2 separate regions of the Homo sapiens genome follow, and region 2 is linked to region 1. The links come from fine-mapping of genetic effects on gene expression. Tissue or cell type: whole blood. Region 1 holds a variant in brackets; the other region holds the start of a gene. All regions are shown on one strand. Distances are from middle to middle.

Region 1 (5,147 bases):
TCTCCTGACCACAGGTGATCCGCCTGCCTCCGCATCCCAAAGTGTTGGGGTTACAGGCATGAGCCACCGCGCCAGGCCACCTTTACGTTTTTTAATCAGGGAAGTAAAGAAGGAAAGCATTGGCTTTGGAATCCCAATCTTAGATTTCAAGCCAAGCTTTGCCACATCAGAACTGTGTGGTTTTGGGCAAGCCTCAGTTTTTGCATATGTGAAATGGGGATAACAATAGCTCCTCCCTCTTGGGTTGTTGTGAAGATGAAAGGAGACAACGTGTAAGCGTTTAGCACAGGACCTGGCACCCAGTAAGCTATTTTTTGATGAGGCCCAAAAAGCTCACTGTCCATTTGACCACAGGACCCAGATATCTGACAGAATCATTAAGACCATTCCTTGAAGTGGGAGTGTTGGTAATGGTTTTAATATTTTATCACCTGGCAGCGTCCTGTGGAAAACACTCATTCGTAGCCTCTTCCTGTGCTTTGCCCAGCCTGCTATTAACAGTCCCCAAAGCCTTCGTAAAAAGTATGCTTCTCCATATGATTTCCCAAAACTCGTAGTCAATAGACAGGATTGATGTATAGCTGGGTGAACATCCTTTTCTCCTTGAGCTTTTACGGAGGATGTGAGGGAAAGGGCTCTTCTTATCAAATGAGGGAGAAAAGACTCTCAAAGCCATTATGTGTCTGACACCAATTCAATTACCCCACCCATGCCCTTTTCAGCTAAGCACTTCCTAAACTTCATTAGTGCTGCAGCAATGCTGCCAGCTGACACCGTACCCTTTACTGAAAAATGTTGTACACAGAAGAGGACAAATCTCCACTGCGGCAGGTCATTGCGGCATTCCTGCTTCCTGACTAAGGTGACCTGGGTCTTCCTCCCAGGCGGAGTGGAGGGTCCAGGTGAGGTTTCAGGGCTCAGTCGGAACCTGCCCCTGCCTGATTCCCATCACCCAGAGTTTCAAGTTATCTTTCTAAAAAAATCTTAAGGCCGGGTACGGTGGCTGACACCTGTAATCCCAGCACTTTGGGAGGCTAAGGAAGGCGAATCACTTGAGGTCAGGGGTTCGAGACCAGCCTGAGCAATATGGTGAAACCCCGTGTCTACCAAAAATACAAAAAAAATTAGCCAGGCATGGTAGCACATGTCTGTAGTCCCAGCTACTTGAGAGGCTGAGGCAGGAGGACCACTTGAGCCTGGGAAATGGAGGTTGCAGTAAGCCGAGATGACAGAGTGAGATTCCATCTCAAAAAATAAAAAATAGGACCGGGCGCAGTGGCTCACGCCTGTAATCCCAGCATTTTGGGAGGCTGAGGTGGGTGGATCACAAGATCAGGAGATCAAGACCATCCTGGCTAACACGGTGAAACCCCATCAGTACTAAAAATACAAAAACAAAATTAGCTGGGCGTGGTGGCGGGCGCCTGTAGTCCCAGCTACTTGGGAGGCTGAGTCAGGAGAATGGCGTAAACCTGGGAGGCGGAGCTTGCAGTGAGCCGAGATCGCACCACTGCACTCCAGCCTGGGAACAGAGCGAGACTCTGTCTCAAAAAAAAATAAAATAAAAAAATAATAATAATAATAATAAATAAATAAATAAATAATAAAAACACTTAAGACATGGAGTTGTGTATCCTACTTTGGCTTATTTCTCATAGGGAAAACAGCACTATGTTCTATCCCACTGCCCCAGCAGAGCCCAGCCTCCCCAACCATAAACGCTGGTGTACTTGTCTGTTGGACCAAAGATTATAAGAGGCTTGAGGAAAGGTGACGGTGCCTTACTCATGCATGCAGCATCCACCAATGCCCGACTGCCAGTGGGTGGTGAGTAGATACCAGGAGACTGAGTTCTTAGAGCTATGGTCCTGGACCCAAG[G/A]GAAGGATCTTGGAAGCCCTGTTGGTTATGGAGGATAGAGCTGCTTGCCTTTGAAAAGACCAATGGACTTGGACCATGAACATAAAGTTGCATTATCCATGATGGACTGGAGACCAGAGACCCTTCCCTTCCCAGGCACCTGTAAGTTGCTGGACTCACGTGTAGCCATGGGTGAAAAGAAGACCTGCCTCTTGAAATATGACTGAGATCAAATTCCTTGCCACCATGGCAGGTGGGAGCTTGGAGTACTGAGTAAGTGTCTGTACAACGATGGATGACCAGTACCAAGGCCTTGCAAGATCTTCAACCATCAAATGAAAATTCAACTTCTTTTCATAAGTTCCAAGGCAGAGGGTAGGCTCTCCCTATTTAGAAAACTGTTTATCCCTATTAGAAAGCAGAAATTCTTCCTTGTACCTCACATTATGCCCCTCCTCAACCCCTCCACTGGCTTCTCATCTCTGAATAAATATCCGAAGTTCTTATCTTGGCCTTCCAGTCCTAGGAGATCTGGCCCCCACTCACTCTCTGACCTCATCTCCTAACACGCTCCCCCTCTTTTATTCCCTTGAGCCACAATGTTCCCCTCGTGTGCCTCCTTGTTCCTGCCTCAGAATGTTTGCCCTTGCTGTTTCTTCTGCCTGAACGCTCAGCCCTGGGATCTCCGCATGGCTTTATCCCTCACTTCCTGCTAGTCTCTGCTCACAAGTCACCTCTTTAGAAAAGCCTTCCCGGATCACTTTATCTAACAGAGTATCCCTCTCTCAGCCTTGCCACCCCACACTTTTTGTTTACCATACTTTATTTCTCTCCAAAGTCCTTAGCTGACATATACATGATATAGTTATTACATTTGTCTGTAGTCTGTTTCCCCCAGATTTTATTTTACTGACTTTGGAATCCCCAATGCCTAGAACAGTATCTGGCACATAGTAAGGATTCAAGAAATATTTGTTGAATTAAATAAGTGAATTTATCCAGCAAATACAACTGCCCCAGGCCACCACACTCCATGGATATTCCCCTGAAGTGAGATTTGATTGGGCATGAGCTGCAGAAACAGGATAGAGTGCTGGAGCTGGAAGAGACCTTGGGATCACTGACTTCTGCCCTTTCACAGGGCTGCCGGGGCACACAGGGTGTAAACCTGCCGTGAGGCCTGGGGCTTTCCTGTGATCTTAAGGAGGCTGCCTTGTTGAGGGAGATGCCCAGCCCAGTGGCTCTGCGGTGTCTTCTCCAACATCACTGGGCGGGAGCACAAGGGAAATTCCTTAGGCAGTGAGAGCTACCCGAGAAAATAAACTTGGGAAACCCAGGTTCTGCGGATCTCTTACTTCTCAGGGCTGCAGGTAAGTTTCTGTGTGTTGCGATTCTCTGAGATGAAATGACTGTACATCTCATTTCTCAAACTTTTTTTTAAGCCTTTTTTCTGGTGAATCCTTTTATGGGATTTGTCTTTCCAGGGACACATTTGGGAAAACGCTGCTTTTTTGCCTTTTTACTGGCTGAAGCACCTTCTGAACAGGCATGGGGAAGCTACAGGGGTCAGTGGCTTTTGTTAGCTAAAGAACCCAGAGATGGGACTTTTCCTTTCCTTAAGGCCAGGGCTTGCCAGCTCCTCCCATCTTTTAGAGGAACCCCAAAGCATACCCTTTTCTACATTCTGCTACCCCCTGGCCCCCCCCAGACCTGAAATGGCTCCCTTCAGTCTCTCTTTTCTTCAGCCCCCCAACACTTGTCTCACCAGGCCCAGCTTTTCCTTCTGGATGTCGCTTGCCGCCCGCCTATCCTCCCACCTGCCTCCTGAGGCCTGGTTTGGAGGTTCTCCTCCTTCCAGGAGCCCAGCGCTGCCTCTAGGAGAGAGAATTATCCTGGAAACTCCCCCTTCTCCCTGCCTGACAGCAGCCCCTGCTGAACTCCACAGCCGCAGCTGGGAGCCATTTAAATAGCTGATGCAGGGTGGGCTGGTGGCTACTGCCTGTAATCCCACACTTTGGGAGGCTGAGGTGGGAGCACTGCTTCAGCCTAGGAGTTCAAAACCAGCCTGGGCACTATAGCAAGGACCCTGTCTCTAAAAAAGAAAAAAAATAGCTGATCTGCATCTGAAAGGAGATAAGCAGTTTCCTGAGCGGTATACTGTGCAGTATCCAGCTTCGTAAACTAAGGGCATACACACTGTAGACATGTCCATGCATATCTGCACAAGGAAAGAAAACGCATGGAGGTGAGGGTGTTGGTGGCTAACTCTGGGTGGTGGGATTTGGGGTGATTTTTTTCTCCTGCGTTGCTTAGCTGTGCTTTTAAATTTTATTTTTTCACGTATGTTTGCAACAACGAAAACTCATGATAAGTGTCAATAAATCGGCAGCTCTCGTTTGGTTCCTCATTAGCTGTGTAACCTCAAACAAAGTACTTAACCTCTCAGGCTCCTCATCTCAAATACATCCCACCTCCCTCCTCCTCTGAGATGCCGCGGGATTCATCTCTCTCCCACAGCCAGATTGCAAGCAGCTAGAGAGCAGGCAGGTGAGTGTCTTCCCCCCTACAGACTCCCGTTTCCCCCGCATGCCCATGTGGTGCCTGGAGCGCTGCAGCATTGTGATTTTTTTATTATTGCAGGTGCTAAATAAATCCTCAGTGACTGAGCCCGGAGCCAAACACATTTATCCTTGTCATCCATCCAATTCTGTGCAGCTGGGATGGAGCCCAAGGCGCTGAGGACAACATAAATCTGCTCTTTGGGCCACACCCATTTCTTCTCCAAGCAGATGTGGTAGCCGGGAGCCAAGTCTTGGGGGCTCAGCGCTGGGCTGAGAAGGGGACGAGCTCCAGGCCCGGTGAGTTGGAAGTCTCGGAGAAAGGCTGACTGGCTTCACCTCGCCTCCGCCGCCCAGGGGCTGTGTGAGCAGGCTTTGGCAGCGATTTCTCCAGCAGGAAGGGATGAAGCCCTGACCAGGTTCAGAGGCAGCGGGTCAGGACCGTGCCTGGGCTCAGTCCCGCCCTGGCTCCTTCGCTTCTCGCCGCTGTGAGCCTGGGCAGTGGCTTCGCTGCTCTGGGCCCCACTTTCCTCAAGCGTTAGCAGGACAGTGGCACTCTATTTTGGAATCTCATGAGAATAAAATGAGATGATGCATGGACAACCTGCACATAGCAAGTGCTAATAATTACCATCTCTTAAGTTGGTTTGAAGGTCCAAAGCCAGTCCCTAATTGAGTAGCCTCCGGTAGCTCAAAGTACATGGCTGGCTTAAGGCCTGGGATCCTTTCCC
Region 2 (5,147 bases), 68 kb after region 1:
CTTTTTTTTTTTTTTTTTTTTTGAGACGGAGTCTTGCTCTGTCGCCCAGGCTGGAGTGGTGCGATCTCGGCTCACTGCAACCTCCGCCTACCGGGTTCAAGCGATTCTCCTGCCTCAGCCTACCGAGTAGCTGGGATTACAGACGCCCACCACCATGCCCGGCTAATTTTTGTATTTTTAGTAGAGACGGGGTTTCACTATGTTGGCCAGCCTGGTCTCAAACTCCTGACTTCAGGTGATCCGCCCGCCTAGACCTCCCAAAGTGCTGGGATTACAGGCATGAGCCACCGCGCCTGGCCTCAATGTACGTTAACACTCTTTTTACTCTAGTCCATTTTTAACACAGTTCAGATGAAGCTACCATAATTATTGCTTGTAAAATTGTGTAACAAATCTAATCAAGGGCAGTATTATGGCAGTAAATACCAGCTCTTTTCCCCCTCAACAATTCAGATTCCAAAGTGTTTTGTTCAAGTAAAATGAACTTTAATTCATACATCATATTTATGGGAGGGAGGGGAGAAAACTCACAAAATGTTGCAACATCAAAATGGTTAGAAATCACTATAGAAGTCATCCAGAATAAATAATATTTCCATCTTCTAATTTGCTGACTTTGCTACCCAAAATACATTTTTTTTTAATCTGGCAAGAGGGAGGTCTGAATGAAACAATTTTTTTTTTTTATAATTGAGACGGAGTTTCACTCTTGTCGCCCAGGCTGGAGTGCAGTGGCGCAATCTCGGCTCACTGCAACCTCCGCTTCCTGGCTTCAAGGGATTCTCCTGCCTCAGCCTCCCAAGTAGCTGGGATTACAGGCAAGCACCACCACGGCCGGCTAATTTTTGTATTTTTAGTAGAGACCGGGGTTTCACCACGTTGGCTGGGCTGGTCTCGAACTCCTAACCTCTGGTGATCTGCCCGCCTGGGCCTCCCAAAGTGCTGGGATTACAGAAACAATTTTCAAATAGTTTCTAAATCAGTGCTTTAGTCAGATTTTACAATTTTTGAATCTTAAAGGCTAACATTACCTGTATACTGAAACGAAGGGAAAAAAGGGGGCTGGGGGTGGGATAATCAACACTAATTAACTTCCCCTAAGGCTAGTGGAATTAACACTTGAGTCTTGCGGGATCCTAGGTCACCCAAAACCACTCAATGGAACATGCTGGTCTCCGTGGGCCTACTCCTGGGCCAAATACTAGTATGTAAAACAAAAAGTGAACGATGCGCTGCCGATCTGGACCCCTTCCCTCGAAAAAACTAATAAAAAGCCCAACAAACACAGCGAAAGGGCTGAGGTCCACACTCCATGACAGCACTTCCCTTTTTTTTTTTTTTTTTTTAAGTAAACCCGCTTCCTGCTTCTCGTTTGGTGTATCTTCAACTATACAGGAAGAGGAAGGCCTCTAGGTCTTTCTCCTTTTTACAAACCGGTGGCCCTGGGGAAAAGAGCCCTTCTCGGAACACACAAACCGAGCCTTTTACGCTTCCGTCCGCTTTAGCCCAATTGCCCCCGCATTAGCGCGGAGCAGGTCCCTGCCGGGCGGTCAGTAGGCTCCATGTCCAGTGCCGGTCTCGCCCGCCGCCCCCACCCGGAAGGGTGAGGGGGTGGCAGGCTAAATGGGTGGCAGGCTCAAGGGAGACCAGGGAACGGCCGGCTCGCTCCCACGCCCGCGGAGGTGGGAGGCACCGCCCCGCGCCCCTTCGCCCCGAGGGCCCGGAGGTGCAGCCCTGGGGGCCGAGGGCCCGTGCGCCAGCTGCTCGTCCCCGCCGGCGTCTGTGGCCGCCAAGGCCTCCTCGCGCGGCCCTTACCCCGGTGCCGTTGTCGCACACCACCACCTTCCTGCCCTGGCTGTCCATCGTCCGCCCAGGGAAGAGCCGCTGCAGCCGCACAACCTACAGCCACCGCCGCCCGGCCGTTTTCTCTTCTTCCTCTTGCGTCTTCCCGGCCCCTCCTTCGGCCCAACTTTTTTCCCCCGACCGGAAGCCGCCGCCGGGCTCCGCCCGTCATTTAGCTGAATGCCTGCACGAAAAGGGTGGGACGGGCAGGCAGCGCGACTGGCAGCGGTGAGCTCCAATAAAAGATGGAGGAGCGTCGAGGCCCCTCCCGCAGCTCCGCTTCCGGCTCGGCTGTCACGGTCGCTGCCCACCCGGGTTCTTCGCTGCTTCTAGTTCCGGGCGCTTTGCCGGGCGTTAATGGCGGCCAACATCGCCGGTGCTGCGGCTTTCTCCCTAAAGTGTCACAGGAGCTAAGGGCGCTGCTTAACGAACTGCAGAAGACGCAGGCAGGTGAAGGACACCGGTTCTGCTGCGGCAGTGGAATGTGGCGGAGAAGCTGGCGGGTAGGGCGGGGAGCAAGCCTGGAGGTCCTGGCGGACCCCACCATTCGACAGGGCTTGGTGTGTTATTGCTTCTAGGCCTTTTCAGCGGACAGAACTGGGATGGATACACACATGCTTATTTGAAATCATGCGTTTGTTCCATACTCCAATGTCAGCCCACCCCTTCTTTGCCCAAGTTGCTCTATGGTCAAGTGAGCGAGAGCAGGTGCCTGCATTTCCAGCCTCGTGGCTCACCGCCTCCTTCCAGTAGTCCCATGTTGCTTCACACCTCTTAAGTACATGTACTTCTGTGAACCCAGAGCCTTGGCTTTGAAATCAGACAACCCCAGTTTCAAACGTGGCGCTGCCACTCACGAGTTTTGTGATTTTGGCATACCCCTGTCTGCATGGGGATAATAACTTCTATCTCCATAGGTGTGGTGAGGATAAAAGTCTATGCATGGAGGAAATGTTCATTCAGTGGTAGCTATTTCTAATTCTGTTCTTCTGGACCTATGATTCTATCTACGATGCCTCATTTTTTTTCCTTTTTAATCAATTGGCAAACTTGTGCTCTGAGACCCAGCTTGTTACATCTCTGATGACAGCTGATATCCTCAGGATATTCCGTACTTCCTTTCTCCCTATTACTTTACTATGAATATATGAATAACATTGTGCTTATTGCATGCAACAAATATTTATTAGATGAATGACATTAAAATTCACCTTTAAAATGCCATCCTTTATGAGAGGTGAGAAATAGAACTTTTCCTTCGACATGGCTGTACATGTTCAACAACTAGAATAAAACAGTCATCATGAACCCTCAATCCAGTATTCTTTTTATAATATAGCTGCCTGTCAGTTTTCACTGTTCTTTTATTAGACCAGTGATTTTCAAACCTTTTTAAAGGCATACAGTGCTTTATTCAAATCTAATCTTATATGGAACCCTCAACACATAAATATTAAGATAAAAATAAAGCTGCCATTGTTGCAATTAGAAGTTTGAGAGGTTAGAATAGGTAGGAAGTCTCGGAGGAACATTTCTTCGTTTTACCTGCTTTAACAGTCAGAGAAGTACCTCAGCCAGCAGAAAAATTTATTTGTTCATAAATTCCTTGAGTATAGAGTCCGTATCTTATTTTTGTGGCCTCCAATGCTAGTGCTGTGCAGTTTTCTTGAAAGTGCATTTTATTGGTCTCAGCAAATTGAACTCAAGCATTTCTGTGTTCTTTTACTTTTCCTCTTTGTGGAATTAAGGGGATTGCTAATTTGTATTTTTAAAGAAAGAACATTATTCCGGGCGCGGTGGCTCACGCCTGTAATCCCAGCACTTGGGGAGGCCAAGGAGGGCAAATCACCTGAGATCAGGAGTTCAAGACAAGGCTGACCAACATGGCAAAACCCCGTCTCTACTAAAAATACAAAAATTAGCTGGGCGTGTTGGCACGCGCCTGTAATCCCAGCCACTCAGGAAGCTGAGGCAGGAGAATCGCTTGAACCCGGGAAGCAGAGGTTGCAGTGACAGAGATCGTGCCACTGCACTCCAGCCTGGTGAGAGCAAGACTCTGTCTCAAAAAAAAAAAAAAAAAATTGGCAAGTTTGGCCCTAAAATTTATATGAAATGAAAAGGAACCAGAATAAAAGGATTTCGAAACAGAAAAAGATGGAGAACTTCCACTACCTGAATTCAAAACTTATTATAAAGCTACAGTAATGAAGACTGTAATACTGGCATAGAGGCAGATATATCGATCAATGGAATCAAATAGTCCACAAATAAACCTTTACATTATGGTCAGTTGATTTTCAACAATGGTGCTAAAACAATCCATGGGGAAAGGGTAATCTTTTCAATGAATGATGTGGGAGGGAAAAAAAAGAACTTTGATTCTTACCTCACATCACACATAAAAATTGATTTAAGTGGATCATAGACCTAAATATAAAAGCTAAAACTATAAATTTCAGAAGAAAAAGAGGAAAATCTTTTGATATTAAGTTAAGCAAAGTTTGCTTAGATATGACGCTAAAATCGTGATCTATAAAAGAAAAAATTGATAGTTGACATAATAGAAATTTAAAGCTTTTAGTTCATGTATTGAAACAAAAAATCTAGACTGGGACAATGGCTCACATCTGTAATCCCAGCACTTTGGGAGACCAAGGTGGGTGGATCGCTTGAGCTCAGGAGTTCAAGACCAGCCTAGGCCAGATGGTGAAACCCCATCTCTACAAAAAATACAAAAATTAGCTGTGCATATAGTCCCAGCTACTTGGGAGGCAGAGGTGGGAAGATGGTTTGAGCCCAGGAGGCAGAATTTGCAGTGAGCTGAGATTGCGCTACTACGCTACAGCCTGGGTGACAGCCAGACCCTATCTAAAAAAAAAAAAAAAAAAAAAAGAAGAAGAAAACAAAAACAAAAAATCTTGGTCTGTCTTAGGCAACAAGCAATTAAAAAAAAAGTAGAAAATAAAGCAAAAGGGCCGGGCGCAGTGGCTCACGCCTGTAATTCCAGCACTTTGGGAGACTGAGGCGAGTGGATCACCTGAGGTCAGGAGTTTGAGACCAGCCTCGCCAACATGGTGAAACCCCATCTCTACTAAATACAAAAATTAGCTGGGCGTGGTGGCGGGCACCTGCAATCCCAGCTACTTGGGAGGCTGAGGCAGGAGAATTGCTTAAATCCAGGAGGCAAAGGTTGCAGTGAGCCAAAATCATGCCACTGCACTCCAGCCTGGGCAACAGAGCATAACTCCATCTCAAAAAAAAAAAAAAAAAAGAAAAAGAAAAAGAAAAGCCATGAACTAGAAGAA

What was found. PIP is the estimated chance that this variant, and not a neighbour inherited with it, causes the effect.
Region 2: it holds the start of ACTR2, and the variant in region 1 is fine-mapped to the expression of ACTR2 in whole blood (INTERVAL, PIP 0.95).

The regions. Positions count from the first base shown.
Region 1 is chr2:65,292,213-65,297,359 of GRCh38, reverse strand. LOC124907781 (a long non-coding RNA gene) reads left to right here and starts at 1,577. Exons shown (of 2, transcript XR_007086472.1): 1 at 1,577-4,405; 2 at 4,499-5,147. RefSeq lists a silencer at 1,388-1,570. The variant G/A (reference allele first, on the strand shown) is at 1,880.
Region 2 is chr2:65,224,626-65,229,772 of GRCh38, reverse strand. ACTR2 (actin related protein 2) reads right to left here and starts at 1,942. Exons shown (of 9, transcript NM_005722.4): 1 at 1,816-1,942. The coding sequence starts at 1,863. It overlaps LOC124907779 (a long non-coding RNA gene), which reads left to right and starts at 2,174. Exons shown (of 2, transcript XR_007086461.1): 1 at 2,174-2,292. RefSeq lists enhancers at 1,011-1,100, 1,173-2,061, 2,062-2,951 and a silencer at 1,601-1,790.